Linked DNA regions of Homo sapiens. The protein of the gene in region 6 interacts with the protein of the main gene of each other region in a biochemical or structural test. Each region holds a gene or a part of one and is shown on either strand. Other genes may lie near its edges. The genes, in order: PTPRB, PTPRK, PTPRG, PTPRJ, GAB1, TEC and PTPN12.

Region 1 (4,515 bases), on a different chromosome or scaffold from region 6:
GTGATAGGAGTGACTGTTAACACTTCTCTCCCTAAATGAAGTTGTACCAATACAGATTTTATAAAAAAGAGCACAAGAGAACTGAGAACCTAAAGGAGGGTACAGAGGATGTAAAGAGACCCAGAGAGGGTTGTTATGGGATGGTGGCTGCAATGAGATAGGCCACACTGGGAGGAGCTGGAACCTCGTATATACATTTTCTGGGCCTTTTTCATAAGCTAAATGACAACGATTTATTCATCATTTATGAAGATTTCATTTTACATGCCTATCAGGGTCCATGTGGCAAGCATCTAGAAGTCACCACCTGGTTTGTTTTGTTTTAATTTATACCATATCTCTAGTCCATATGCCCTTAAAGTTAAATGGCCTGAAATGTAGGCAAGATCTGACTACAATATGTACGACTCACCCACATGCCCAACATAGCATATACTCTCACCTGTGGGCCAAAATGCCTGTGTTTCTGTTTTGTTCTCAGTAACAATTTTTCTTCTGTTTAAGTCCCAGCCTCTGTGAGTCATCTCAGGGGGTCCAATCGGAACACGACAGACAGCCTTTGGTTCAACTGGAGTCCAGCCTCTGGGGACTTTGACTTTTATGAGCTGATTCTCTATAATCCCAATGGCACAAAGAAGGAAAACTGGAAAGACAAGGACCTGACGGAGTGGCGGTTTCAAGGCCTTGTTCCTGGAAGGAAGTACGTGCTGTGGGTGGTAACTCACAGTGGAGATCTCAGCAATAAAGTCACAGCGGAGAGCAGAACAGGTGAGAAGCCCAGGTGCCAATGGCCAAGGGATGGTGGGAAGTAGCTTCCAGAGACACATTTTGATTCTGATTTTAATGACAAGAGATAAAGCCAATAATGATATACCCTGAGCTAGCCCCTGAATTTGGGAAGGGACTGTGGGACAACAGATAAAGGACAAGGCTTTGGTCCAAAAGAAATATGTCCTTAGCTTAGCTCTATGAATCTGGGCAAGTCATTGAGCATCTCTAGGCCTCAGTTTTCTTATCTGCAAAGTGGGAATAATCATATACATCATCACTGTGTGGCTATCACCAGTGCTTCCTAACTGTTTTTATGTCATGGGCACACACAGAGGTCTGTGTGCCACCCTGGAGTTAATCAACAAGGCTATCTGCAACTGAACATAATTGTCTGTGGACGTCAGCCCTGTACCCCAAAATCTGATGGAATTAATATCTTCACACACTTGTAACCCATTCAGGGCACACTCATGCTCCACAGCACCATGGTAAGGAAGATCTGGCTATGAATATTTAAGAAAAGGTATATGAGGCTGGGCACCGTGGCTCATGCCTATAATCCCAGTACTTTGGGAGGCCGAGGTGGGTGGATCACTTGAGGTCTGGAGTTCGAGACCAGCCTGGTCAACGAGAGGAAACCCTGTCTCTACTAAAAATACAACAATTAGCCAGGTGTAGTGGTGGGCACCTGTAATCCCAGCTACTTGGGAGGCTGAGGTGCCTGTAATCCCAGCTACCTGGGAAGCGGAGGTTGCAGTGAGCCAAGATCACTCCACTGCACTTCAGCCTGGGCAGCAAGAGCAAAACTCTGTCTCAAAAAAAAAAAAGTGAAAAAAAAAAAAAAAAAGTACATAAAATGCTCGAAGACAGTGCCTTACACATAATAAACACTATTAATGAAAGCTCCTGCTACTATATTATTATCATATTATCTCTTCCTACAAAGTACATTAAAAGTGTGTCTGATGTTGCTCAGCTATCTTATTTGTATATGTTATGGCATAGCTGTGATTATGTGATTTTTCACTTTCTCCTACATTCAGCTCCAAGTCCTCCCAGTCTTATGTCATTTGCTGACATTGCAAACACATCCTTGGCCATCACGTGGAAAGGGCCCCCAGACTGGACAGACTACAACGACTTTGAGCTGCAGTGGTTGCCCAGAGATGCACTTACTGTCTTCAACCCCTACAACAACAGAAAATCAGAAGGACGCATTGTGTATGGTCTTCGTCCAGGGAGATCCTATCAATTCAACGTCAAGACTGTCAGTGGTGATTCCTGGAAAACTTACAGCAAACCAATTTTTGGATCTGTGAGGACAAGTATGACATGTTTTGCTACTCTTATTTCTCAAATGGAGTAGAGGAAGTATATGTTCAACATCTTACTCAAATAGGGCTTGGATTAAATCCATATTTTTACATGGGATTGGTCTGGATTTGAATTCAGGCAGAAGTCTCTGTAGATTTGTTCGTTCATTCAACATTAACAACAAGGGACAATAAATCTCTCTCTGCCCTCATGGGGCTTACAATTAGGTAGGACGTACTATTTGTAAATAGACATTATATTTTGGGTGTGATGAGGGAAGTAAATGGTACTATGGAGACACTTGTTAGGTAATCTGACCCAATACAAGAGAACTTCTTGGAAAAGGAAACATCCAAATAGAAACCTAAAGCAAGAGATTTACCAGGTAGAGGTAGGGGAAGAAGTGGAGAATATTCCAGGTAGAGAGAATAAAATATTCCAAGATGAGAGAGGAGGGAGAGTACAAGATCTACCAATAGGGGAACAGAAAGAAGTTTATTTGGCCATAGCATAAAAGGTGAGGATTAAGGGAATCAGATAATAAAATATTTTGTATTCCATGGTAACTACTTTGAACTTTATTTTGAACCAACTGGAGCCACTCAATTTCAGCAGAGATATCATAATCATTATTTACACTTTAGAAAGTTACTCTGGGTACAGTGTAGAGAATAGATTGAAAGAGGCAAAACTAGAAGCAGAGGGATCATAGTTAGCATATACTGCTGTATGTCCCTGAGATAAAAATACTTCGACGACGAAGCATATACCAGTTTCTTCCCAAAGGCATTTTGGGATAGATACTATCACCCTCAAAGAAAGACAGGTATTCAGTGTAGGGACTTTAATCCAAATATTTGTGTTTCAATAATACCCAGTATAAGTAGCTTCTGGGATCAGATCAGATAGTTATTGGTTGTTGATAAAATACATAGTTGAAAGTTAGAAATTTAAGCAAGTAGTTGTTTTATTTTTTTAATAAGCATTAATACTATAACAAGTATAACTTTTATGCCACATTGTATCCAAAGAGCAGTTATTTGTGTGTCAAGAGAAATATGTGAAAAAGAACTAAGAGTTTTAGTTTATGGCGAGCTCAGGATGAGTTTTCCGTGGCTGACTGTGGGCTGTGTTCATGAAATCTGCTAAGCAGAACACCCTGCACTGGTTACCAAACCCAGGGCAGAACTCTAAACACTTCTGACCATTGCATCTGGTATTAGAGTAGCCAGGGAAACACAATGCAAACACTGGATGGAACAAAGCTTTACTTACATAGAGAGGAGACAGAGTAAGATCAGCCTCAACAGTATGCATCAGTCCCCCACAGCCAGCTGCAGTAGTTGCCCAGAGATGCACTTGCTATCTTCAACCCTGACAACAGAAAACAGAAGGGCGCATTGTCTGTGGTCTCTTCCAGCAGCCAATGGAGGGCAGTTGGCTAAGTGCACCCCTCTCGGGCCACAGTAGAAGGACCCTGTCCTGTCTCCTCAGAGGACAACTATAGCATTGGTGTTCGCCATCTACCATGTGACACACATGCTTAAGCAGAACAAAAGAGCATACATTGAGCTTGCAACAGGGAATGATACTCCCACACAAGGCAATGAGCCCAGCACAGGGTGTGTAGGCTCTCCATCTCTTGGTAAGAAAGTATCTTAAGCTCAAGGGCCATTTCTTACACAGCCAAATGGGGGTTGATAGACTATGCACATGAGACTGCCTTTCCCAACAGCCTCGCAGGTGCTCAGTTTAAGAGCTCATACAACTCTGTTAGAGGCTAGGCTTATAAGTCACAACTGGACTGTTGTATTCAGTCCCGGGTGCTAGAATTTAAGGGAGGCATTTACCAAAAGGGGGAGTGCCCAAGAGGACAAAAACTGCCATGAAAGAGAGACTCAGTGCTGTTTCATGAGGAATGATTATGGTGGAACTTGTTTTTGTTTTGTTATGTTTTGTTTTGTTTTCTTCGAGGCTTGTATTTATTAGGATCGGGTGAGGCTATGGGTAACAGAAAATCCAAAATAGCAGAAGTTTAAATAGAATAGAAGTTTATAATTTTCATGTAAAATCATTCCAGTACTCAATTTCTCACAAATATGCTTCAACCATAATGAATGATTTGCAGTTCTCAATTTTCTACCATCCCACTCCGGCACCTCCTCCTTTGGTACCTGGGTTTCTGGTTTTTCTCTACGTAGAATGCCTCTTTCGTGATACCTTGGCAGAGTGTCACCTCTGCCTTACAGCTTTTACTAACTCCTGCTGATCACTAATAGCCAGCAGCTAAAAGTTGTGTGTCACACCACATAGCACCTTCTCTCACCATTTCTTCTGGTATGTTTTCCTTTCTACCTTGTGTTATGGCTATTTTGGACTCATTTCCATTTGTAGAGGTTAGAGCTAACGTCTTATTTACCTCTGTACTGT
Region 2 (4,515 bases), on a different chromosome or scaffold from region 6:
TATTATATTTTTTTTTTAAGAAAAGGCATAGTCTTTCGTAAAGGTTTTATTGTTATCATTGTCAGTTGGGTCTGTACCCATAATTGTGTTTAATGGCTTTATTTTGGCCATTAAAATGGCTTTTGAAAACATTTCTTTCCATCTTTGCACAGAGGGGGTACAATGAAATCCGTGAAGTTAAACAGTTCCATTTCACGGGCTGGCCTGACCATGGAGTGCCCTACCATGCTACAGGGCTGCTTTCCTTTATCCGGCGAGTCAAGTTATCAAACCCTCCCAGTGCTGGCCCCATCGTTGTACATTGCAGGTAAGTGGTGGTCCAAATGGTATTGACTGTATGCAATCAGCTTTTTTTAGAGTATCAAGACAAGGCTTTTGAGCACAAAAACTAATGTGTGCTTACGAAGTTCCAGCTTGCTTGTATTATAGATAAAGTAAAACAGCAATAAAATAAAAGTTGGCTGTAAGTAGTCTATAAAACAGGAACTTAAGAAATACATACATTCATCCTAATGCGTGTAGTGTTATCCACAATTTAAAGTATAGAAACTCTGCCTTTTAATGGCAACATCTGTGTTTTTTGTTTTTATCACTTTTGCAAATCCCATATTGTATAGAATGCTAGGTTGAAATAGACATTTCTTGCCAATCTAGAAAATTCCCAATAGAATTCCAGCTTTAAAACTAAATTTCAGACATACAGAGTTACTAAATGGCCTAAATTGCAAGGATTTGTGCTGCAAAACAGCTATTTAAAAATTTTTTTTAAAGAATTCACATTAGAGGACCTTGAAAACTGCATCAGTGAGATTCAGCAAATATATGCCAAAAAACACGAGCATTATATCCAGACTTTCTTCTGATTAGAAACTTCTCTTAAAACAAGCATTTAGAGATACTAAAAGCAAATTACATGGCCTCATTTTGAGGTGTGACCAGAAAAATAAGTACTGAATCTGAAAAGCGTTTCCTAAATGATGCTGCACACCATTCTCATACGCTCTTCCCTCCAAGCTACATAATAGGTTGTACCTAAGCATTTTTTGCTTTCTGAAAATCCAACCTATTCAGGATTTAAATAACCATGTATAAAAGAGGGGAAAAAAAGCAGAGAATGAAGTAAAGGTAAAACGTCCCATAGGATCAGATACTATGTACCCTGAAAACAAAAAAAACTTCCTTTCAATCCTCCTCATGAAATCTGATGTACTCTTAAATTACATTCCTGTCTCCAACTCTGGGAACAGTGATTGAGAAGATGGTAGGGGACAAAGATAAATAGAGATAGCCACAATATCTTTTGCTTAAATTTCTAAAAGAACAGTGAGTTTAAGAGAAGTGACCAAATCTGAATAACAAGGAAATAATGTTACTAGCCTATCTAAGCACTTAGAAAATGAGATAAATAGGTTTTCAACTTAAGAATTTCTTGATTTATCAGAGAGGTTTACTTTCTTATGAATTGCTTGCTTCAGAAATGCTCCAAGATTCTCAGATACTCTCTTGAAACAGAAGTGTCATTTTCCACCTACACTGAAGCATCTCTGGACTACAAAGTGAATTCCCCACTCCCCGCAAAAAATCCTTATTTTGTTTTCCCCATTGACTTCTATATATAAAATTGGAGAAACATTCCCCAGCTGCAAAATAATCACAGTATATTACAATTAAAGGACACAAAATATGGTGAGATAGAGGAATACATTTTAGTGTTCTGTACCACTGTAGGATGAGTCTGGTAAATGATAATGTTTAGTTTGAGAGAGCTAGAAGGAAGATACTGAATGTTCACAACATAAATGATACATGTTTGAGAGGACGCATATGCCAATCACCCTTTTCTGATCACTCTACATTATGTGTATTAAAATATCACTATGTACCCAAGAATATATACATTATTATTTGCCAATTAAAGACTAAAATATAATTTTTTAAAAGTATTTTTAAAAATTAACTTTAGAATTAAATACAGTAAGATAGCGGCTAGCCTTTTGATTTGCTGGGAATCATATTCTACACCTAATAATTCATTTTCATTTCTCTTCAGATCATGATTCAAATAGTCTTTACACTGTTACTCTCCTCCCCTTTGATAACCGTCATTCTCTTGCCCACCCCCACCATTTGCATTTCCTGTGAAGCGTGGCTCCTCAGATTTCCCGTTTAAAGTTTTGGGAATTAATTTTCTTTTGCCTTGGTATTTACAAGAGGTGAAGACAGTGAGTGAGCCAACATTCTCACATTGTTGCCAGAGGACACACAACTAGATGAATCTAAAAATATTCAATCTTGAGTTAAATTTTGAAGCGTGAATCTGCCACTTGATCAATTCTATGAACTTGAAATTATGTGTATTAAATTTACATAAAATGAAAATTGTGAGAGAGGTGTGGAACTTAAACAGTGTTATTTTCAATTTGAAAATAATTTAGAACTCTTGTTCCAATCTTTAGTTTATACCAAAGCAGATACTCTGCATGAAGCTATTTGTACATTAATAAGCTTTTACACAGCAGGGACAAGTGCTGTGCCTTGCAGTTTGTTAAATCAATTTGATTCTACCTATCTGACAGTGGAAAAAGTCCTTATTTAAGGTTATGAAGACTAACATGCTTCTTACAATTCATTAAATTTAATTGTTTTTCAGTGCTGGTGCTGGACGAACTGGCTGCTACATTGTGATTGACATCATGCTAGACATGGCTGAAAGAGAGGGTGTTGTTGATATTTACAATTGTGTCAAAGCCTTAAGATCTCGGCGTATTAATATGGTCCAGACAGAGGTATGTAGATTTACCTGTAGTGGACTTTTTTTTATTTTTTATTTTTTTTGCAAACAAAGAGTAGATGTCTCTCATATATACTCTACTCAACCGAAAGAGATGTTTTTCATGTGTAATCAATATTAGCTGAGTCATATAGAAAAATATTGGTGTTTTAATTCATATTTCCATATAGAGAAAATTTTCTGTATTTCCTAACTTTGATGACAGAAAAGTGATACTAAAACTAGTACAAAATTTTCTTTTTCATTCTTTTGGTAGGAACAGTACATTTTTATTCATGATGCCATTTTAGAAGCCTGCTTATGTGGAGAAACTGCCATACCTGTCTGTGAATTTAAAGCTGCATATTTTGATATGATTAGAATAGACTCCCAGACTAACTCTTCACATCTCAAGGATGAATTTCAGGTATTAACTATTTCTAAAACCTCTTTTGTGACTTACTACAATTTGTTCTGGGCGCTAGGAATCCTTTCAAGGAAGGTCTTTCAAGTCAAATTTATAACCTTTGATCCTGTTTTAAATACAATACGTATCTCTTTCATTATACATATTATATAGTCACTTTTCTATTGATGAATTTATATCTACTATATCCAAAATGACAAATAAGTTCAGACTTAGGGAAGAGCAAAGGGGAAAGGTATCATAAAAGTCAAAAATTAGGCCAGGCGCAGTGGCTCATGCCTGCAATCCCAGCACTTTGGGAGGCCGAGGCGGGTGGATCACGAGGTCAGGAGATCGAGACCATCCTGGCTAACACGGTGAAACCCCGTCTCTACTAAAAAGACAAAAAAAATTAGCCAGGCATGGTGGCGGGTGCCTGTAGTCCCAGCTACTCGGGAGGCTGAGGCAGGAGAATGGCGTGAACCTGGCAGGCGGAGCTTGCAGTGAGCCGAGATTGCACCACTGCACTCCAGCATGGGCAACAGAGCGAGACTCCGTCTCAGAAAAAAAAAAGAAATAATAACAAGTCAAAATGAGTGGTGATTTGTGTGTATTTAGTGTGTATTTATAGCCTTTTTTTCATGCAGTCATACAGATTTTGACCTGGGTCACTCACAATGTGATGAGATCAAGCACATTAATTATAACTGAGTCTGGGTTCAGTGGCAGCTCACACCTATAATCCTAGCACTTTGGGATGCCAAGGCAGGCAGATCTTGAGGTCAGCAGTTCAAGACCAGCCTGGCCAACATGGCAAAACCTCATCTCTACAAAAAATATAAAAAATAGCCGGGTGTGGTGGTGCATGCCTGTAGTCCCAGCTACTCAGGAGGTTGAGATGGGAGGATTGCTTGACCCTGGAAGTTTGCTTAACCCTGGAAGGCTGTGGTGAGCCAAGATATTGCCACTGCACTCCAACCTGGGCAACAGAGTAAGACCCTGTCTCAAAAATAATAATAGTAATAATAATAATAAATGAAGTTTGTAGTACATGTTATTTCAAAATAGCCCTAAATGTTTTCACTGCCCTTAAAACACCCCTGAAGGTGGGTGAAAATAAAATCAAGGGCAGAGACCAAATTCTTTGATTGTTGATCCAGTGCTCTTTCCAACATGCCATAGCTTATCTTCAAATATGGCAAGCCCAGATGTTACTACAAATGATACCGTTTCCCAGTGTGATGAAGGGTCATTATCATAATGGACTGCCCGATTGCATTTTCTTTGGTTAAGGCAATGCATTTTGCAGGTAGCAGTGTTGTTTAGCGTACCTTTTCCT
Region 3 (3,500 bases), on a different chromosome or scaffold from region 6:
AAATTGCTTTGTCGTGGCTGGTTGTTAATTTGCTTGCAGTTAAAACTGTCACCACGAAGTGGCAGTATAATGTTGTTAAACTGCTCAGTGTAAAGCGGTTATAGTAGAGAAAAAATTACATTATTCACTTTTTATAATTCAGTACCTTATGAACACAAGCTGTGCAACAGTGTTAGGTGGTTATATTATATAATTTTGTGAAGGTAAAAATTCTTCATATTTTTAGTTATGATTTGTGGGATCAGACGATGCAGGACCACAAAGGAGTTAAATCTGTTCCAACCCTTTCATTTGACATATACTCAAATTCAGAGGTTGTCATTTGCGTAAAGTTATATGGATCTGAAAATTTCTGGAACCAGAATTAATATCTTAGTTTCCCCATTCCTGGTTGGTATAATGAATAATTAAAATACTAATCACAGCAGTGGTGATAATAATAATAGCCTAAAATTCACTATGCTCTTCCTGGGTTTCAGGCACAGATTATTTTATTTACTTCTCCAGGCAGCCCACAAGGTCAGTGTTACTGTTGTTCCCGTTTTACAGATGAGGAAACCGAGGCTCAGTGAGTTAAAGTAATGTGTCCAGCATCACCCAGCAGGCAAGCTAAAATTAGACTAATAGCTCAGAGCAGCACTTCTTGTTTTCCTAAGATACCTTATGTGAGTAAAACCCCCAGACTTGAGCCCCAGTTTAGTATGGTGGTAAGAACAAGCCGAGTCTTAGACCCAGGCAGCCCTGCATTTGTGCCTTCCAGGTCATGTACCTTGTGTAAGCTCTTTAACATCTCTGTGTCTGAGTTTCCTCACCTGCAAAATGGGGTGATGATCATGCCTGCCTCCAGAGTAGCATGGAAAGCCCTGGCACACGGTTGGCATTTGTTAATTGGAATTCTTGTTATTGTTGTTGATGTTGTTGTCATCTGTATGGGCTCAGATTTTCCCACGGATCAACTTAGAAACTGCAAGGTACAGTGACTCTGCAGTGCCCAACATGGAGATGCAGAGATGTAAACCAGTGCCCAGAGCATGCAGTGCAGAGCATGGCTCCTGCCTCTGACCCTGTCATTGCAGACCTGGGCAGGCTGCTTTCCCTCCTTGTCCACCCACTTCCTCACTGGGAGACAGTGGGGTTGGACTGGATCACCCAGTATCTTTCCAGACCTAGAGCTGAGTATCTACTCAAGTGTCAGTGATATACATAAAATCAAAGGTCTTCTGCCTCTCATCACCCCAAGAACAGATGACCATCTGATTTTTCCAGTTCATGACTTCTTTGTTGTGTAAGTCAGCTTTAACACTACTTAGTTTTTTTGGCACCTAGCCTCATCTTGGGTAATATCAGTGAAAAGCTGAGTTTGATCGACTAGTTATGCATTTTAACATGTTCACAATTATAAAACCATTAAAAATAAAAGTTGATCACCCATGGACCACCTAATGTCAACTTTATGCCATACATTGGAAAACTCCATAGCATAGATGAGTAAAATCCTCAGAGGGTGACAACCAGGGCCTCATTCCCAATCTCAATTACTGATGCTTCTCTGCTTTTTCTTCTTCTGCCTCTTTTCCACCCTTGCCGGGTGACCCTTTCCAGCCCACAGCGTCTCCTGCCTCTTCAGCCGACATGGCCCCCATCAGCTCGGGGTCTTCTACCTGGACGTCCTCTGGCATCCCATTCTCATTTGTTTCCATGGCAACTGGGATGGGCCCCTCCTCCAGTGGCAGCCAGGCCACAGTGGCCTCGGTGGTCACCAGCACGCTGCTCGCCGGCCTGGGGTTCGGCGGTGGTGGCATCTCCTCTTTCCCCAGCACTGTGTGGCCCACGCGCCTCCCGACGGCCGCCTCAGCCAGCAAGCAGGCGGCTAGGCCAGTCCTAGCCACCACAGAGGCCTTGGCTTCTCCAGGGCCCGATGGTGATTCGTCACCAACCAAGGACGGCGAGGGCACCGAGGAAGGAGAGAAGGATGAGAAAAGCGAGAGTGAGGATGGGGAGCGGGAGCACGAGGAGGATGGAGAGAAGGACTCCGAAAAGAAGGAGAAGAGTGGGGTGACCCACGCTGCCGAGGAGCGGAATCAGACGGAGCCCAGCCCCACACCCTCGTCTCCTAACAGGACTGCCGAGGGAGGGCATCAGACTATACCTGGGCATGAGCAGGATCACACTGCCGTCCCCACAGACCAGACGGGCGGAAGGAGGGATGCCGGCCCAGGCCTGGACCCCGACATGGTCACCTCCACCCAAGTGCCCCCCACCGCCACAGAGGAGCAGTATGCAGGGAGTGATCCCAAGAGGCCCGAAATGCCATCTAAAAAGCCTATGTCCCGCGGGGACCGATTTTCTGAAGACAGCAGATTTATCACTGTTAATCCAGGTAAGTGGTGCAGGTCTTCTTCGAGGGTTCCTGCTCCTGTGAATAGTCGTACCCTTTTTCAAAAAATTGGGAGCAGAAGGTGAAGCTTCAGAAGGTACTTAATATTCTTAGAATCATATATGTCTGTCATAGAAAAGGTGCACACATGTGAAATGTGTATGTGTGTGTCCCTGTTTTACTCCAAAAGCCTACTCTCTTACGCTGGAGTAAGTCTTTCTTTGATATTTGTTTTCTTGCCTCGGAATAACTCCAGGGACTTCAACCAGGCAATGATATACATGAATAAAAAAAGCCATCGATCTTAAGAAGTTTATTTATTAAGATTTCATTCCATATTCATTATATAATGTATCTACAAATGGCTAGTTTGGTGCCAGGGACTGGGCAGGGTGCTGTCCCAGGGGATCCTAGTCCCTGCCTAAAAAGTTTAAAGGGGAAGGCAGACAGATGACAAGACAGTAGCTAGCTGGAGCGCATGCCCAGAAGTTAGGTAGCAGGAACGTTAGAAAGCCAGCAAGCTAGATGGTGGTTAGTCGGCAAGCTAGATGGTTAACTGGCAAGCTGGAAAACTAACTAACTGAAGTTTTCGATTGTGAAATGGTAATAGAGGAAATAAACAGGATGCTGTCCAAGAGAATTATGGAGAGGATAGGGACCTACCTTAATTAAGAAAGGCCACTCTGGAGAAGTGGCTTGTTCATGGAAACCTACAGAATGAAAGGCTTCAGCCTGGGGAGAGCTGGTATTGGCCCATGGTCCTTGCCCAAGAAATACGGCCCTCTCTCCCAGAGCTCCCATTGCTGTGGGAATGAGCCAGTGTATAGACAGTGAGGCCAGGGCATGAGATCCTCATCTCCTGGTGGCAATTTTGTTGCTCTATCATATGCTCAAATCTTAATGAACCATCCTGATAGTTTCTGCAAGGGAGCCATAAGCATGAGGAGTTGTTATTGTTGTGAGGGCTTTTCTTAATAAGAAATTCTTCATTTTGCCAGACTACAAGATGTTTAGCAACAATTTTTTTTGCGTCTAAGCTGTTGTGGAGTTATAAGAGTGCAAAAAAAAAGCAACTGGTAAATATTTATTTGCTTTTGCACTTGTAAACATTAAAATTCATCTA
Region 4 (4,515 bases), on a different chromosome or scaffold from region 6:
GCACGGGTGCTGAGTGATAAAGGTGCCACAGTCAGCACTGTGAGCAGAAGTGCCCACCACTGTCTGCAAAGCCTTTCCTGGGCTGCCCTGAAAGCATCCTCAATTACACAGAGGGCTCTTCTCTTTATCACACATTTTCAGTTGTGAGATAGGTGAGGATCAAGAAGGATGCAAAGGCTGGGCATCATTTCAATAAACTTTTCATCTTCTCCAGCACAAAAGACAAACCAATGCCAGATATCATCCACATCCTGGCTCAGCCCCACTCAGGCCTCACCTCCCACCTATATCCTCCTGTTCCTGCGGGTCCACTCCTCCCACCCTTGCCTCCTGCTCTTCCTCCAGCCTCCAGATACAGTGGTGATGCTGCACAGGCCCCTCTGCACAGGCCTCTGCCTGTAATGTTCTCATGCCCTGATATCCACATGGCTGGCTCCTTCCCTTCATTCAGATCTTTGCTCAAAAGTCACCTTGTCATTGAGGCCTTTCCTGAGCACTCTAGGTAAACATCCCACTTCCTCCTTCGAAAAGTTCCAAGAAGGCAAGGACTTGACTGGCATATGGTATATGCTCAATAAATATTTATTGAATGCAGAAATGATGAGGGCATCGAGACAGCACCGATAAGCTAACAGGATGCCTCGGAAAGCTCAATGTCCATCACTGCACATCACACAAAACCAGACAAACTACAGACTTGGGAGGACTGACCTGCAAGGTCAGCACCACTCAGGGAGGAGTCCAAGAGGCAGTTGGGGCTACACTCACCTGTACAGAATGACTTCCGGCCAGGTTCCAGTGACTTGATCCCATCCCCTACTTGTGCAAAGATCTCCACTGTGTATGATGAGCCAGGTATTAATTCAGTGACTGTAGCGTCAGTAATTCCAATGTCCGTGACTACTTGTGTTGCGTTGCTGGAATTTCCAGCCTTCTCAATAAGAAGGCAGTAGGAGTACGTGGGAGAGGCGTCATCAAAGTTCTGCCAACTTAAAGTTGCTGCTGTGGTGTTGGTACTTACATCAATGTTGGACACATTGCTGGGCCCTTGATTTTAAAAAAAAGGCAATTCATGTAAAAGCACAGATTAAGTAGAATTCCAGGACTATTTACTATATCCAAAAATAGCCTGGCTCGTTTTAGAAAGAATGAATAAAACTAGTATTTGCTGGCTCAAAAGATGGAAAACTTCCCAAAAACACATCAAGAAAATAATTATACAGATTAAGTCTCAAAAGAAGTTTAATTTAGGCTTCTTTTAATACTTCAAGTTTATTTCAAATATATTTTTAACATTTAATTTCTAATCTGTTTTTTAAATCTAATAGATGGAGAAAAATATACTAAAAACATATTACAAACTAACATCTTTACCATGTATTTAATTCAAATATTCGCAAAACACCTCCCTAACTGTTGCAGGCGAAGCTCCTCATCTGGGCAGTATCTTCCAATACCAACATGACAAGGTGACCCTTCTCTACTCTGTATTCTCAAGGAATGACTAGAACCATTTCAGTCACCATTCCCAAGGAATCATTTCTTCCTTCTAATGACAATTCTAAGTTCACATAGCTTGAAGAACAGTGCCCCATGGTGACAGCAGAACCATTGCTGAGACCAATGTTTTCAACTTCAGCAGTTTCAGAGTCAACCTGGATCCCAGAAGCACACTGGCCATCATTTAACCAGTGCCTCCTCCAAGAGACAGTTAGAGAGGCTGTTCCTTAGAAGGGCATCCTAAGAGACTTACGTGTGTACTGTGCAGTGGAGTTGGGGTCCCCCCAGACGTGGTCCACTTCTGGAGAGATGGTGATGTTATATAAGGTGCCCGGAATCAGGCCCTGGAGAGTAATCGCTTTGTCATACGTGCTTGTGTGGTTAGAGCCATGCTTGGACTCTATGACTAAATGGTAGACATACTCGGAAGCACCGTCAGGGCTCTTCCAGTCCAGCCACATCTCCGTGGTGGTGACGTAGACCACGTGGATGTCAAACACTGCACTGGGAACTGCTCAGAAGAAAGGAAGGAGAAGGGAAAACTGTTACTATCATGACGCCCAGCTTCCTCTCCAAGTGCTGTCGAGAGGACCTGCTCTTTTGCCATTACGCTTTCTAATGAGTTCACAAAAGGCACACTCCAAAATCGAGCTGAGAAATGCACACACTCAGTGCTCTCAAGAATTTCAGCTCTTCTGTGACGCACATGAACTTCCCAGTTTATCTTACCAGTTCTCCAGTTTTTTGTTGTTGTCTTAAAAATGAGCCCTTAGGCTGGGTGCAATGGCTCATGCCTGTAATCCCAACATTTTGGGAAGCCGAGATGGATCACTTGAGGTCAGAGGTTCGAGACTAGCCTGGCCAACATGGTGAAAACCCATCTCTACTAAAAATACAAAAATTAGTTGGGTGTGGTGGTACACGCCTGTAATCCCAGCTACTCGGGAGGCTGGGGCACAAGAGTCGCTTGAACCCAGAAGGCAGAGGTTGCAGTGAGCCGATATCACACCACTGCACTCCAGCCTGGGCGACAGAATGAGGCTCTGTCTCAAAAAAAAAAAAAAAAAAAAAAAGGCCAGGCGCGGTGGATCACGCCTGTAATCCCAGCACTTTGGGCAGCCAAGGCAGGCGGATCACCTGAAGTCGGGAGTTTGAGACCAGCCTGACCAGCATGGAGAAACCCCGTCTCTATCAAAAAAAGTACAAAATTAGCCGGGCGTGGTGGTGCATGCCTGTAGTCCCAGCTACTTGGGAGGCTGAGGCAGGAGAATCACTTGAACCCGGAAGGCAGAGGTTGCAGTGAGCCAAGATCGCGCCATCGCACTCCAGCCTGGGCAACAAGAGCGAAACTCCATCTCAAAAAAAAAAAAAAAAAAAAAGCCCTTCAAGGGGTCATCTGAAGTGGAAATCACATTCAGTTTTTTTATATGGGTGCTGGTAACAAGATGTGTTCAGTTTGTAAAAGTTCATGAAGCTATGTGCTGAGGATACATCCCTTTTCGGTATGTATATTATATCTCAATAAAGAGGTTTTTTTGTTTTGTTGTGTTTTTTAAATCAGTCACTCAGAAGGAAACATCTTCCCGTGACACAGCCTTACATACCAAAGAGGAAAACTGAAATGGAGAGCTGACCTTTACTAAGTTGCAGCATTTGAGGACGGATGAGGAAGGGAAGAAAACAGGCACACCCTGCACCTTCAGAGCAGAGTCAGAAATGGAATCTCCCACAGGAGCCCATCCTCCGATCATCTCCCGCTGCCCACTCAGCCACCTGCACCAGGGATGCCTACATAGAGGCCCGGAAGTAACCGCGGAGGCTGGGCCTATTTTCTACCGCGGCTTTCAACCCTGTCTCTCTTTACCTGGCAACAAACGTCACCTCCAGGGAGAGGAAATGGGCAGGTAGGGGACAAAAAAGGGAAATGCTTTCACTGCAAACACCTTGTCCAAAAAACAAAAAAAATTGTGCCATGTTTACGTACTATCTACTCCAAAATTAATTTTTTTTTTAATTTTAAGTGGATTCTCCTTACAGAGAAGCCACTGGGAGGAGCCTTTGTTTCCTACCAGCAGATTCCTGATGTCAAAGGGATTCCACAGACAAAAGCCCATGAAAGGCAGCCTTTGTCTATAAACATAAAAACCTAGAAACAACCTAAATATTCAATAACATGGGGAGGGCTGTGGGCACTGTGATCTGGCTGCATGATGAAATACTCTTTAGCCACTAAAAATATGAAGGCCATGCTAACTATAGGGGAAAGTTGTGGTATAGACTGAGTAAAAAGAAATTCAAATACAAAATAAAAGTATTTGTATAATAATTACAGTATACAAGCAAAATGTATGACTGTGGACACAGAGAGAAAAGGAATTCAGTTGGGTTAGAAAAATAGAGATATTTGTTCCTTTTCATTTTTATTGTGGTAAAACATACATACCATAATATTTATCATCTTAACCATTTGTCAGTGTACAATTCGGTATCATCAATATTCACAATGTTGTGTAACTATCACCACTACCTGTACCCAAAACACTGTCATTATCCCCAGCATAAACTGTAGCCATTAAACAATAATGCCCACTCCCTCCTCTGAACAGCCCCTGGTAACCTCTATTCTAATTTCTGTAGAATATTAAGTTGCCTAATCTAGGTACTCATGTAAGTGGAATCATCCAGTATTTGTCCTTCTGTGTCTGGCTTCACTTAGCATAATGTCCTCAAGATCCATCCATGTTGTACCATAAATCAGAATTTCTTTCTTTCTTATGGCTGAATAGTATTTTGTTGTATGGATGAACCACATTTTATCTATCCATTCATTTGTTGATGGGATCTTGGGTCCACCTTTGGCTACTGTGAACAATGCTACTACTATGAACACTGATGTACAAATAACTGTCCAGGGGCCTGTTTTCAATTCTTTTGGAGATATACATAGGACTGGAATTACTGGATCATATGGTATTCGTTTCCTTTTTTTGAAATTGCTTTTAATGCTGTTAAGCT
Region 5 (4,515 bases), about 95 Mb from region 6:
ATTCGATTCCTTCTCTGGGTCTGTTCTTTCCTAAGTCCCTAAGCCTGGAGGGTTCTGCGTCCCTCCTTTCATTTACACAGAAATACTGTTTCTTTCAAAAGCCTACATTTTGCAATTTATTTTCCTTTCAGAAGCTTTCCTTCACTACCTCTTACCCAAACCTTGAGCCCCTCTTTCTTCTTCCATGTTCCTTGTAGGACCTGTGCTAAGTAATTCATTTGTTTGGTACTTGTTCATTGTGTTTTGTGACTGATTCTCACTTGCATTTCATAGGTAATGATAATTACCTTGGCTATTTCCTAACTTCATAACCTATTTATGCTTGAGGTTGCAATTTTTTGAATGTTTGCAATCAGACCTTGGCGATGACCTTGAGCAGTGGGATATAAATAACTCCCACATGCTTAGCGTTCCAATAATGGAACACTAGGCATAAATGGGATAATCTAATATAGTTTTTTGAGACGGCATCTTGCTCTGTCGCCCAGGCTGGAGTGGAATGGTGCAATTGTGGCTCACTGTAGCCTCCGCCTCCTGGGTTCAAGCGATTCTCCTGCCTCAGCCTCCTGGGTAGCTGGAACTACAGGCGTGTGCCACCATGCCTGGATAATTTTTGTATTTTTAGTAGAGATGGAATTTCACCATGTTGGCCAGGCTGGTCTTGAAGAACTCCTTACCTCAAGTGACCCATCTGCCTCAGTCTCCCAAAGTGCAGGGATTATAGGTGTGAGCCACTGTGCCCGGCCATAATCTAATATAGTTTTAAAATATATTTTTAAATAGCACCTAAAGAATTGGGTTGAGCTACATAAAAGTGCTTTTTTTTTGAGACGGAGTCTCGCTCTGTCGCCAAGGCTGGAGTGCAGTGGCGCGATCTCGGCTCACTGTAAGCTCCACCTCTCGGGTTCACACCATTCTCCTGCCTCAGCCTCTGGAGTAGCTGGGACCACAGGTGCCTGCCACCAAGCCCGGCTAATTTTTTTTTGTATTTTTAGTAGAGACAGGGTTTCACTGTGTTAGCCAGGATGGTCTTGATCTCCTGACCTCGTGATCCACCCGCCTCGGCCTCCCAGAGTGCTGGGATTGCAGGCATGAGCCACCGCGCCCGGCCAAATGTGCTATTTTTTAATAGGTGAAAAATAGTAAAATATCAACAGTGTTATATGGTTAAACTGAATATTTATATTGGAATTCAATAAATGTTCTTAAAATGTCTTCTTGTCACCTTTTACTTCAGGATATTTAAAAACTGCCCCAATATGTCTAAGTCTGTCGCTCTAAAACTGGTAAACAGCTTCTCCCCAAACTAATTAAAGGATTCAGTGCTTTTTCCAAATGTCAAGTTCCTATTATAAAAATAAAACATTATATTGTGTAACTAAAATAACAAAGAATTGTATGACATTTCTGGAAATGTAGCAGAAAAGAAGAATTCAAGTTGAATAGTAATATCTTGAACTTACCTTCTTCTGTTGGATTAAACCCACAGATGTCACAAATACAACGAACCCACTTATTCATCTCCTCCTCGCTGTCTGCTACCAAGTAGAAAATCCGGTCAATAGTGTTGATATCAAAAATGTAGCTGTTTTCAAACTCTTTTTTGTTAAATGTCAATCCAGCATCTACTTGTTGACATAAATTTAAATCAATAATACGAATAGGCTTCTTGGCATGATCATTTTTGTAATATTCCAAAACATCTGGATCTCCAGTTAAACGGCCACTGCGTAACACGAACCATCTCCTCTTCCATGCCTAGAAACAAAACAAAAATATCCATTCAGTATTAACTTGAGATAATGTTTTCAAGAAGATGCACATTTATCAAACTGATTTTACAAATGCATTGTTTAGAGAAAGTCACAATATGTGTGTGTTTGTGTGTGTGTTTTTACCACAGGATAATCTGCCACTCTGAAAAGCAACGTTTACTCATAACTCAATTAACTTAATAATGTATATATATATTCAGTATGTTCGATTAAATCTCCTACTATATAATATTGAGGCAATACATCAAGGAGGATTCAGTTTTTACTAAATATGAAAAAGTCATGGTTTCAACAAATGGTGTTAGGAAAACTAGAAATCCATACGCAAAAGAATGAAGCTGGACATTATGCTAAGTGAAATAAGCCAGTCATAAAAAGACAAATATTGTATGATTCCACTTATATGAGGTAGTTCAAGTAGTCAAATTCATACAGACAGAAAGCAGAATGGTATTTGTCAGGCCCTGCGGAGGGGGAGGGGTGGGAAATGGAGAGTTATTACAGTATTTAATGGGCCTAGAGTTTGAGTTGAAGAAGATCAAGTTCTGGAGATGATGGTGGCCATGGTTGCAATGGTGCTGTGAATGTATTAATACTTAATGCTAGTGAATTGTATATTAAAAATAGCTAAAATGATAAATTTTATGTTATGTATATTTTGCCACAATTTTTAAAAAAGCAACAGATTTTCATGCATTAATATTATGCCATAAAGAATACACATAAAGCTGCTTCTTCATAAGACTCCTACAGATTTTAAACACTTAAAAGATTTCTCTTTTTTTTAGGTGCGGTGGCAAGGAGTAGGGAGGGGGAAAGGTTTTGAAGCTTTTCTGGCTTCTTGACTGGGAAGCAATTGATTGTGTCTCTCTTTTAGCCACACAGCCTGTTGTTCAAAGACTATACGAGTAAGACCTGTATTCTTGAGTATGGGATTTAACTCTTTCTAATATTTCCCCTCCTCTTCCCAACAAACATACATGGGCAATCTGTAATACACTCACCACATACCCCCTCCACAAGTTCTGGTAAATTTTGAGTTTAATACTATACCTAGAGAAGCCTAAAAAATTATTTTACTATCACCCTCCCTAAATCTATGGTCACCAAATAATAAAAGCAGAACCAAATGACAAACAGCCTTCCTTATCAGCCTTTAACCCCAACATGTGTGCCTGGAAACAAACTTACACCTTACTCCTCTTTGAAATTCTTCCTCAGGGAGGCAGCTAGACAGAAAAGAGGCCTATTTTAGCAAGTCTCAGTCATTTACTAAGAAACATTCTCTGCTCCAGATTCAACATTCTAGGTAAGACTACCTCAAGAGGACACTCTGGGCCTGGGTGCAGTGGCTCATGCCTGTAATCCCAGCACATTGGGAGGCCGAGGTGGGCAGATCACCTGAGGTCAGGAGTTCGAGACCAGCCTGGCCAACATGGTGAAACCCCGTCTCTACTAAAAAATACAAAAATTAGCTGGGTGTGGTGGCAGGTTCCTGTAATCCCAGCTACTTAGGAGGCTGAGGCAGGAGAATCGCTTGAACCCGGAGTTGGCAGTTGCAGTGAGCTGAGATCACTGCGCTCCAGCCTGGACAGAAGAAGACTCCTCCTCAAAAAAAAAAAAAAAAAAAAAAAAGGGCAGCGGGGTGGTGGGGATGCTCTGGGAAGTGGAAGGACTCGAAAACCCCCAGTGGAATAAAACATTCCCTTTGCTACTTGTGGGAAGAAAAACAAGTATATAATTCATTATTCCTACCTTCAAAGAATTGACTAATTGTGGAAAAAAATATTTAACATACATGAAAATACTTGAGACTACAGCAACCCAGGCAAAATGTCTGCAGAGGTATTGCTACATGAACAAGCATTCCTCTACAGAAAAATTTAGGCAATCCTTTAACAAGAGGATGACCAGAGATCACAAAGGCCTAAAAACATTATATAGGTCTTTAATCATCAACATTTTAAATTAACTTCTCATTCTTCACGCAGCTCAAAGGAATAAGTATATAATTTGTGTCCAGGGAAGGCAGGGTAGAGTCCTATAGATGTTTTAGATAATATTGAAAAGTCATAAAGTGTTGGATTCACATGATTTTAGCACTGTTTTCTGGACTATAAAAATCCATTCATTGAATATGCATCTACTTACTGCAAAATAAATAAATATCATCTCTTAGTAAAATTATCCCTCTATGGATACTTCCCTCTCAAGCAGTAAGCTTTAAAAAGTAATGCAGAAGTAAAGCAAAAGAATATAAAATATGATGTTATTTATGCAGGGCCCTCAAGAAATCATATCATTCAGTAAGTGATTTCTCCAGATAGTGAAGCTTCATCTTTAAATACAGAAATGACTTTTTAAAACTTTATTGTCTTGCACGCAAATCTTTCTAAAATGCTTTACTACATACTTCACCAAACATAATCCATTCCCCAATGATTCAGACTAAGTATTGTAAGCATCCATTTCTATACTGCACTTCAGGAGACTCTCAGAGGCTGTTGCACTGTATAGAGTGTCATTTGCCCCTATACTATTAATAAATAGTACCATATTGCTATGCTTGTATAGTTCATCTTTTAAATACAGTTTCCTGTCTTTTTTCTCTCAATTTCCATCAACTGTCACTTTTCCCCCTCCAATAATAGGGTTTATAGGAGGCTAAACTCTTACCTGCCTCAGGGACTTTGCACATGTTTTCCCCTAAATACATTATATTCTTTCCCTCACTTTTTGC
Region 6 (4,515 bases):
TTCTTTTTTTTGGCGGGGGTGGAGACAGTCTCGCTCTGTCACCCAGACTGGAGTGCAGTGGCATGATCTCAGCTCCTGGGTTCAAGTGATTCTCCTGCGTCAGCCTCCCGAGTAGCTGGGATTACAGGTGCACGCCACCACACCCAGCTAATTTTTGTATTTTTAGTAGAGACAGGGTTTCACCATGTTGGCCAGGCTGGCCTCGAACTCCTGGCCTCAGGTGATCTGCCTGCCTTGGCCTCCCAAAGTGCTGAGATTACAGGTGTGAGCCACCGCCTGGCCTATTGTTCCTGTTTCTTGAATTCACTTTGTGTAGGATGACTCTTTCTGCCATCTTGACCTCTGAATGTTTTACCTTTCAGTGAAGTGCAGCTTCTATTAAGTCCAATATTATTTTAATCTGAAAGATGGGATTGGTGTCATTGATGGCCATGTGGCCTCAATGGAAGTTATCATTATTTCCTTCTGGAGGCCAGTTTATCACACAACTGCCTTACCAGCAGCAGCACCCTTACTTCCCTTTCCACTTGTGCCCTCCTTGGAATGTGAACCAAGTTCCTGTTTCTGGCTGGGCTGATGTACCCTGCCGTTTGTGGATGATCACGACTTTCCCAACGTCATTTCATCAGTTGAGTCATTCCTCAGGCTCCCTTAATGGGCTGTGAACTTCCAGCATGCTCTCCCAGTTGCTTTGTAACATCAACATTCTTTATGGTTACACACATGATGACAAGAGTCAGTTTCCACAAAAGTAGGAGGATAATTGTTCCTAAGCCATCTTATCTGTGCAGAAAAAGCAAAGCTCGATCTTCCCATGATGGCAGCTATGCATTGGCAATACAGAAAACAGGAGTGCTGGCGATTGTGACAATGGAGTGGGTGCAACAATTACTTTATCTTTGGAGGATGACAGATGGTTAAAAAGGCTTTTTCAGCAGGTACCACTAGGCACCATTGTGAACAAAAGCTTGGCTAGTAGGGATACTGCAGAGCTCATTCCTCCCACTGTGCTTCCACAAGCATCCTTCCCTTTTCTAAACGAAGTCTTTGAAGTCATTGGAACCTCCCTTTTCCAGGCAGTATAGTTTTTCTGTAATGTACTGGGTCTTCACAGAAGTTCTTTCCTAGGGAAAGCATAGTACCAAGCAAGTACTTAATATACTGAATGAATTTTCCAGACAATTTTGGACACTTTATAGTTAAGAAAAAATGATATTTGGGCCAAGAGTGGTGGCTCATGGCTGTAATCCTAGCACTTTGGAAGGCTGAGGCAGGTGGATCACTTGAAGTCAGGAGTTCAAGACCAGCCTGGCCAATATGGTGAAACCCCATCTTTACTAAAAATACAAAAATTAGGTGGGCCTGGTGGCACGTGCCTGTAATTCCAGCTACTCGGGAGGCTGAGGCAGGAGAATCTCTTGAACTCAGGTAGCAGAGGTTGCAGTTAGCTGAGATCGCACCACTGCACTCCAGCCTGGGCAACAGAGCAAGACTCCGTCTCAAAAAAAAAAAAAGAGACATTTGGTCACAATTACCCAAGTTGTACTCAACAATCTAAATTCTCTAAATTCTTGATTAGACTTTCACATCACTTGTCTATATATGGATTGAAATATAGAGCATTCAATTTAAGTTTTCTCAAGTGTATTGTTTCTTGTATTATTTAGAAATATTCTTCACTGAAAACATTCTTGAAAGGACAACATACATTATTATCATTATTTTCCATCTGTATATTTTTTCTTAGCATAGTGTTATGATTATCTTAGTTTTTATGGCTACAAAGAATGGCTTTTGGAGGAGGGAGGGAAGTAAGTATTCATTATGTTATCTCATCAGTTTTATGTTTCTAAAGGAGGAACACTTTTGTTTGGATTTCTACAATATATACTTTTGCCTTTTGTAACTATATGTCATTTGTTTTTCAAGGTTAAAGCTTTTAACCTTGAAATGCTTACAATAGAGTATCAAAGCGACAGACTTTAACTTGTCATGTACTATATGAGATACTTACAAGGTGAAACTCCCTGTCAAGTATCCTACTCCTTTTATTTTTAATTTTGGTGACATTATAATGTGATTTAGTAGGAAAAACCTTTGATTTTTCTTCTCTTATCCTTCATGGAATTCCAATGATATCTTTTGTTACTATTTCCTTAGAAACTCTTAATGTCCTCACATACTCCTCAATATTATGTTTCAACCACGACTTGTGGGATTTCCATATGACTGCCCCAAAAATGAAACTGGCTTTTTTTCTTACAAGAGTGATTTAAAGTTTCATTTTTCTGCCAATATGATTTAAGCATGCAACAAAGTTAGTTTTTACTATTAGGGTTATTTTTGATTTGTAGAAGGCAGTTGATTTCTTCATTTTCCTGCTTGGGTGATAAAAATGCTTGATCCTTCAACCATGCAGGGAAACAGAAATACAATTTAACTGGGTTTGAATGCTGTCAGACATGTAAATTTAGGTATACATGCTTTTGAATTTTTTTAAGGATTGTCAGTGTCTTTGTCACATACTTAAACCAGTTATAGAAGCATTGCATGAAATAATTCTTGTTCATAAGTTCTGGAGTCCTAGCCAGAAGACATTTTTTAGGCTCAGAGCTGTTGACACACCATCTTGCTTCCCCCAGGCAAAAGTTTGATCTTTGGGTGCCACCGAGGTTCTCAGACACCTGGTGTGCTCCTTGGACTCTCCTTGCCATCAGTAAAAAAAAATTGTCATTTTGTAGAGTTTTATATATTCCTTGTTAGAAGATGTAAACAATACTGAAGCTTACAAAGAAGAAATTAAAAATAACCCTAAAACCATTCCAGAGAGAATCTTTGTGAATCCCCTTCCAGTCATCTCTATTACCAGCTGACTTTTAATAAATCTTTAGCAATGTTCTAGAAAATAATTAAGGAGCATTATGTTACAACTGTTTATGTAACTCCAAATTCTACAATCTTTATTTATACACAGGTAGTTACTTTATGACGTTGTAATTAGTCCATGCATAATTTTCTTTGGGTAATTCTGTCATGTTAGCATACGGTGGTATTTTGAGCCACTCCCCAGTTGTTGGACACTTAGATTTTTTTTTTCTTTTTTTTTGTTTTAGAGACAGAGTCTTGCTCTGTTGCTTAGGCTGGAGCACAGTGGTGCCATCACCATAGATTACTGCAGCCTCGAACTCCTGGGCTTAAATAGAAGGTTTGAGCTTCAGCCTCTGGCTTCAGCCTCCTGAGTAGCTAGGATTGCAGATGCATATGACTGCATCCAGCTCATTGAAACGAAAATTAAGCAGCGATGAGGCCTTGCTATGTTGGCCAGGTTGGTCTTGAACTCCTGGCCTCAAGTGATTCTCCCACCTCGGCCTCCCAAAGTTCTAGGATTACAGGTGTGAGCCACCACACCTGACTGATTTCTAGCTTTTATTCATCAGTTTTAGAAGGTCATAAAATAACTCACTAGCAATGTGAAGTTTCCATTTTTTCTCTTTTTTGACCTTTTAGAATTACAGTGTCTCTGTTATGTGAGGACAAGAAGAGCCAGAATGCTTGAGGCCATGTTATGTACCCAGTTATAGGTCAGATAAAACTAGAAGAACCTGACAGGTCATTTGCAGAGACTGTGTTCTTGTTGGTAATGTGTAGAGCCTCATTTCATCTTATTGGATGTCTATAGGAAAACTTTCCAAGGATCAGTAACAAAACATGGAAGAGTTGTTATGTAACTGTGCAATGACATTTGACCTCAGTACCTGGTCTAGAGTTTATGAAACTTTGTGTGACCCGGGAAGGCATCTTATGTCCTCAGGAAACTCCAGCCTTCCTATCCATTGTGCCATTTCTCTACTGCTTGAGTAATCATGGCCCAGTAAGGTGTGCAAGGCAACCAGCAATGTTAGAGAATTTTGCATTAATGTAGTTTCTTGATAAAGAACTACAGCAGAGTGAGCTCCTGTTCAGATTTTTCTTTTGACATCTTTCTTTTTTTTTTTTTTTTGAGACAAAGTCTCACTTTGTCACCCTGGCTGGAGTACAGTGGCATGATCTCGACTCACTGCAATCTTCACCTCCTGGGTTTAGGAGATTCTCATGCCTCAGCCTCCTGAATAACTGGGACTATAGGCATGTGCCACCACGCCCGGCTATTTTTTGTATTTTTAGTAGAGGTGAGCTTTTGCCACGTTGGCCAGGCTGGTCTCGAACTCCTGACCTCAAGTGATCTGCCAGCTTCAGCCTCCCAAAGTGCTGGGATTACAGGCATGAGCCACTGCGCCCAGCCCCTTTGTCATCTTTCTAGATATCATGGTCTAATGTTTAAAGCCTTGGGTGGATTTCTTTTTTCTTTTATTTTAGGTTTGGGGGTACATGTGAAGGTTTGTTACGTAGGCAAACATGAGTCACAGGGGTTTTTATACATATTGTTTCATTACCTTGCATGGATTTCTAAGTTAACTATTAACTGGAATTATTTTCCTGTGCTTCAGGTTTTGCATCTATTCAACAAACTATAAT
Region 7 (4,515 bases), on a different chromosome or scaffold from region 6:
TAGGACATTTTCTTCACTTTCTGTACCCATTAGCAGTCACTCCCCGCCTTCCCATAAGCCCCAGGCAACCACAAATCTACCTTCTGTTTCCATAGATTTAAGTATTCTGGACATTTTATATAAATGGAATCATACAATATGTGGTGTTTTGTGACTGACTCCACCTAACATGATGATTTCAAGTTTCATCCATGTTATAGTATTGATCCGTAGTACTTTTGGCCTTTTTATGGCTGAATAATATTCTATTGTATAGATACCACATTTTGTTTATCCATTCATCGTGTTGATGGGTATTTGAATTGTTTCCACTTTTTGGCTAATGTGAATAATGCAGCTATGAACATTTGTGTACAAGTTTCTGTGTGGACACATTTTCAGGTCTCTTGGGTATATATCTAAGTGTGGAATTGCTCAGTCACGTGGTAACACTATGTTTAACATTTTGCGGAACTGCCAGACTGTTATCCAAAGCTGCTGCACATATTACATTCCAATCAGGAATATATGAGGGTTCCAGTTCCTCTACATCTTCACCGATACTTGTTGCTGTCTTTTTGATTATAGGCATCCTACTGGGTGTGAAGTGGTATCTTCTTGTGGTTAGCTTGTAAGATTTTGTGTGTCTTAATTTGTCTTTCAAAGCTAGAGTGATAGGAAATATTTTCCAGTCCTTGCATTTGAGCTAATCTTAGTGCTTACCCAGTGCCACTGGTTTAGTTATGGTTTTCTTATCCATCCTTTGATGAGTATTCACCTAAACATATTTACATCAACTAACTTCAGAAGTGGAAGTGAACTTTTAAGTAACTCTCCAGACATGGTTCACTGAGACAGTAAACTAAAAATTTACTTTAAGCATTCTCAAGAATGTTTTACTTTATTTACTTTCAAAATATATTAACTTTTTTCCATCAATATTTGATATTTAACTTGGAAAAAGGATTTTTAAAGGATGAAACTGAAAGTAAGACATTAACATTTAGGTGGCTGTAGGTTTTTTGTTCATATGTTAAATACTTCTGTGTTTCTGTAGCACTGAGTTCATTAGATTCATAAATATTTACATTTCTGTCTTCCCCAGACTGAACGCCTCCCAGGCTAGAGACTGGGACTTAATTATCCCTGTATCCCCATTGCTTAATATAGTGCTTGGCATTTAATAGGCACTAATGTCCATTGCATGTGCAGACATTGTAGACAAACTTAATGCTGTAAGACAGATTTATTCTTCAGGTGAATTCTTCAGTGGTCCAAGGGTTTGTCTTCTAGACGATCATGAGAACTGCTTCTTCCCCTCCTACACAGATGTGCTCACATAACTCGTTGTATTTTCAGTATCCACTGAAAAAGAAAATACAAGATAAGAGCTACATTGAATTCAAATATTTTAAATAAATATGATTTTATTAGCTGCAGTTTCTTAAGGTAACTTCTGTATTTGTGCATCCCACACCCAATGGATCATACTTTGTTGACATTGTCTTAGAGTATTAATAAAATGTCTTTTAAACTTTTGGCTTTGGACTTAATAAAATCAAGATATCATGTCATCGGTATCTCTTCAAAAATAGTGAATTTGTGGGTATTTAGAGAGTGATTACAAGTGATATCTGTTGTTCTCTACTTGCCTCTAGTTTCTTTCCTCATCCAGTCCATTCAACACATCATACTCACTTTCAAGTGGCAGCATCTGTAGGCTAATGGAAACCATACTGGTTGTACAATCAGGAGATGTGGGCTGCACTGGAAGCATGGTTTAATTTTTATTATTAAAAATATAAGTTAAAAAAACTCATTGCTCCCTTTGATGACCATTACAATTATTGGAAATTTTAAATGTGTATTTTGAAAGTCAATTCAAAACATATGATCCAAGTGCTGCTCCTTTTTCAAACTGTAATTATGTCTGTCTCTCTTTCCAGAGAGATTTGATTCCCTGATTTTTCCCTTCTCAGCTCCCTCCAATTTTAAATATATATATATAGTTTTTTTTAATAATTAAAAAAAAATACTTCACCTGGAAGTTTTCATCCAATTTTGTAACTTTGGTCCTAGTTGAGAATCACAGGCCTATAGGATAAAGTCTGTACTTCTTAGCCTGGCATTCCAGAACCTTCTTAACATAATGTCACAGTACCTTTCCAGTGTTAAACTTCTATACTCTGGTATGTATCCTCTCTTCTTTTTGAAGGAAGCTATTCCTGGTCCTTGAGCATACCTACTAAATGAATGAAATCTTGCTTATCTGTGGTTGTACTGTTGAACATACTTTTTCCCTCAGAAAGCTTCCCTTTTATTTTATTTTATTTTATTTTTTTGAGACAAAGTCTTGCTTTGTTGCCAGGCTGGAGTGCAGTGGCACCATCTCAGCTCACTGCAACCTCCGCCTCCTGGGTTCAAGCAATTCTGCTGCCTCGGTCTCCTGAGTAGCTGGGATTACGGGCGCCCGTGACCACACACAGCTACTTTTTTTATTTTTAGTAGAGATGGGGTTTCACCATGTTGGCCAGGATGGTCTCCCCTTTTATTTTATAAACCAGTACTTGGAAGATGAGAAAGCTAAAAATTTAAAATGACTTCACCATGTTCACCAAAAACTCAGAAGCAAAAATGTGATTAATTCTCACCTTCTAGAATAAATATTTTAGCACAGTTAATCTTAAAGCACTTTTTCTCCTTTGTAAAGTTTGATCTTTAATATCACAAGAAAAAAAGCCTTTCATTAGATTTGAGTTGAAAACTTGATAAGGTAAATCAGGTGATATGCAATTTCTAAACCACTAGTCTTTTCCAAATATGAGTTGAACTCCTCTTCCAGCATTTTATATTTCCTGTAGTATTTAAGTTTCTTTAGATTCATGCAGTCAAACCTTGACAATTATCTCCTTCCTTCTGAAATCACACAAAAATCTTGTTTGCATTTGTACAGTATTGTAGGGTCTGTAGCTGGCCTATGGCAGATATAAGAAGCAAACAGTAGTTGCTCCCTAAAAGTTTTTTTTGGAGAAAGTGGAGTGTGGACTGTATTAGTCCATTTTCACACTGCTATGAAGAACTGCCCGAGACTGGGTAATTTATAAAGGAAAGAGGTTTAATTGACTCACAGTTCAGCATGGCTGGGGAGGCCTCAGGAAACTTACGATTGTGGTGGAAGGTGAAGGGGAAGCAAGGCACCTTCTTCACAAGGTGGCAGGAAGGAGAATGAACATGGGAGGAACTACCAAACATTTGTAAAACCATCAGATCTTGTGAGAACTCACTATCAGGAGAATAGCATGGGGGATTATAATTACATAGGGATTATAATTCAAGATGAGATTTGGTGGGGACACAAAGCCTAGTCATATCGTGGACCATGATAATCTCAGAGGCTTTGGGAAGTGTGCTAATATCTACATTTCCTGTAATAACTTTTATATCTAATCGGCATTTAAAAAGCTATTTTAACAACATTTGAGTGACTGTCCTGATAGGCTCTGAAGGAATGCAAAGATTTGTCTCTGTCATCCATCCATGGTCTCTGTCATCCATCCATGGTCTCTATCATTTATCCATTCATACAGAAGGTATTTATGGAGATACCTGAGTGCCCACTATGCCCTAGGTACTGTGTTTTTGAATTGACAGTTGAAAACATGGCAGTACTCTGTTCAGGAAGTTTACTAACTGAACAGACCTGTGAGAAGCAGCGGGACTTTTCCTGGGGGCAGTGGGTGGGCTTCAGGGGAATCTTTGAACCCTTTTAAATTATATATAATATTTTTTGTGTGTAAGCCCATTTTAGGGGGAAGAAAGTTCATAGCTCTTAGTTTCTCAAGGAGTTTGGGTCCCTTAGACTAGTGGAAAGATAAGGAGTTTAGGAGCTATACAGTCATTAATTTCTATCCTGGCCCTGCTGTGATTCTGAGCAGATTATCTAGAGAAGTTGGGGCTCTAATACCTACCTGGAAAGAACAAGATAATATATGTAAAGTTTCTAACATAGTATATAGAAGGTAGTCAAAGGAATTTGAGATGACATACTGCTCCAGTGGAAGTATATTCGGAATATAAGCCAGAGAGACAGGAGAGCCTAAATCTGTCTGAATAGATCATGGACAGTTTCCACAAAGATGCTACATTTGAGCTGGTTTTTGAAGGAAGAGTTTGTCAGGTGAACTAGGTGAGTAAAAGGCAACAACACTTTCAAAGACTTGGAGATAAACAGAGATAGAACTGTGGGTTTTAGATGGGAAGAACAGGGTCAGTGTGTATAAAATAAGAAAATCTTATGTACCCAAATAATAGGATTTCCAAAGGAATATCAGCTTAAATGCTATTATGAAATTGGCCTGTGTTCCTGAGTGTTTTGATGAGGAGTGTTTTGATGTTCCATTATTATGGCATAGTTGTTTGATCTTACAGTAGGACCTTTTAAAAATTGAGTCCTTGTCACATGGTAAATGTTCTTAAATCTGGTAATTTTACTTTATCTCAGGTATATAAAGTAGTACTCTCTCTGTTTACACAGTT

The links.
Region 1: of the proteins of TEC (region 6) and PTPRB, one has a biochemical effect on the other in vitro, tested with the Homo sapiens proteins (one large-scale study listed by IntAct).
Region 2: of the proteins of TEC (region 6) and PTPRK, one has a biochemical effect on the other in vitro, tested with the Homo sapiens proteins (one large-scale study listed by IntAct).
Region 3: of the proteins of TEC (region 6) and PTPRG, one has a biochemical effect on the other in vitro, tested with the Homo sapiens proteins (one large-scale study listed by IntAct).
Region 4: of the proteins of TEC (region 6) and PTPRJ, one has a biochemical effect on the other in vitro, tested with the Homo sapiens proteins (one large-scale study listed by IntAct).
Region 5: the proteins of TEC (region 6) and GAB1 form a complex in vitro, tested with the Homo sapiens proteins (one large-scale study listed by BioGRID and IntAct).
Region 7: of the proteins of TEC (region 6) and PTPN12, one has a biochemical effect on the other in vitro, tested with the Homo sapiens proteins (one large-scale study listed by IntAct).

What each region holds. Positions count from the first base shown.
Region 1 is NC_000012.12:70,556,924-70,561,438, reverse strand, and holds part of PTPRB (receptor-type tyrosine-protein phosphatase beta), read left to right. Parts: intron 1-442; exon of another isoform or gene 443-504; coding exon 505-768; exon of another isoform or gene 769-834; intron 835-1,814; coding exon 1,815-2,096; intron 2,097-3,360; exon of another isoform or gene 3,361-3,459; intron 3,460-4,515. UniProt on the Homo sapiens protein: Plays an important role in blood vessel remodeling and angiogenesis. Not necessary for the initial formation of blood vessels, but is essential for their maintenance and remodeling. Can induce dephosphorylation of TEK/TIE2, CDH5/VE-cadherin and KDR/VEGFR-2.
Region 2 is NC_000006.12:127,981,513-127,986,027, reverse strand, and holds part of PTPRK (receptor-type tyrosine-protein phosphatase kappa isoform b precursor), read left to right. Parts: intron 1-152; coding exon 153-307; intron 308-2,650; coding exon 2,651-2,786; intron 2,787-3,047; coding exon 3,048-3,197; intron 3,198-4,515. UniProt on the Homo sapiens protein: Regulation of processes involving cell contact and adhesion such as growth control, tumor invasion, and metastasis. Negative regulator of EGFR signaling pathway. Forms complexes with beta-catenin and gamma-catenin/plakoglobin.
Region 3 is NC_000003.12:62,201,571-62,205,070, forward strand, and holds part of PTPRG (receptor-type tyrosine-protein phosphatase gamma isoform 1 precursor), read left to right. Parts: intron 1-1,602; coding exon 1,603-2,380; intron 2,381-3,500.
Region 4 is NC_000011.10:48,133,535-48,138,049, reverse strand, and holds part of PTPRJ (receptor-type tyrosine-protein phosphatase eta isoform 1 precursor), read right to left. Parts: intron 2,012-4,515; coding exon 1,754-2,011; intron 1,048-1,753; coding exon 769-1,047; intron 1-768. UniProt on the Homo sapiens protein: Tyrosine phosphatase which dephosphorylates or contributes to the dephosphorylation of CTNND1, FLT3, PDGFRB, MET, KDR, LYN, SRC, MAPK1, MAPK3, EGFR, TJP1, OCLN, PIK3R1 and PIK3R2. Plays a role in cell adhesion, migration, proliferation and differentiation.
Region 5 is NC_000004.12:143,412,720-143,417,234, reverse strand, and holds part of GAB1 (GRB2-associated-binding protein 1), read right to left. Parts: intron 1,759-4,515; coding exon 1,464-1,758; intron 1-1,463. UniProt on the Homo sapiens protein: Adapter protein that plays a role in intracellular signaling cascades triggered by activated receptor-type kinases. Plays a role in FGFR1 signaling. Probably involved in signaling by the epidermal growth factor receptor (EGFR) and the insulin receptor (INSR).
Region 6 is NC_000004.12:48,259,201-48,263,715, reverse strand, and holds part of TEC (tyrosine-protein kinase Tec), read left to right. Parts: intron 1-4,515.
Region 7 is NC_000007.14:77,543,630-77,548,144, forward strand, and holds part of PTPN12 (tyrosine-protein phosphatase non-receptor type 12), read left to right. Parts: intron 1-4,515. UniProt on the Homo sapiens protein: Dephosphorylates a range of proteins, and thereby regulates cellular signaling cascades. Dephosphorylates cellular tyrosine kinases, such as ERBB2 and PTK2B/PYK2, and thereby regulates signaling via ERBB2 and PTK2B/PYK2.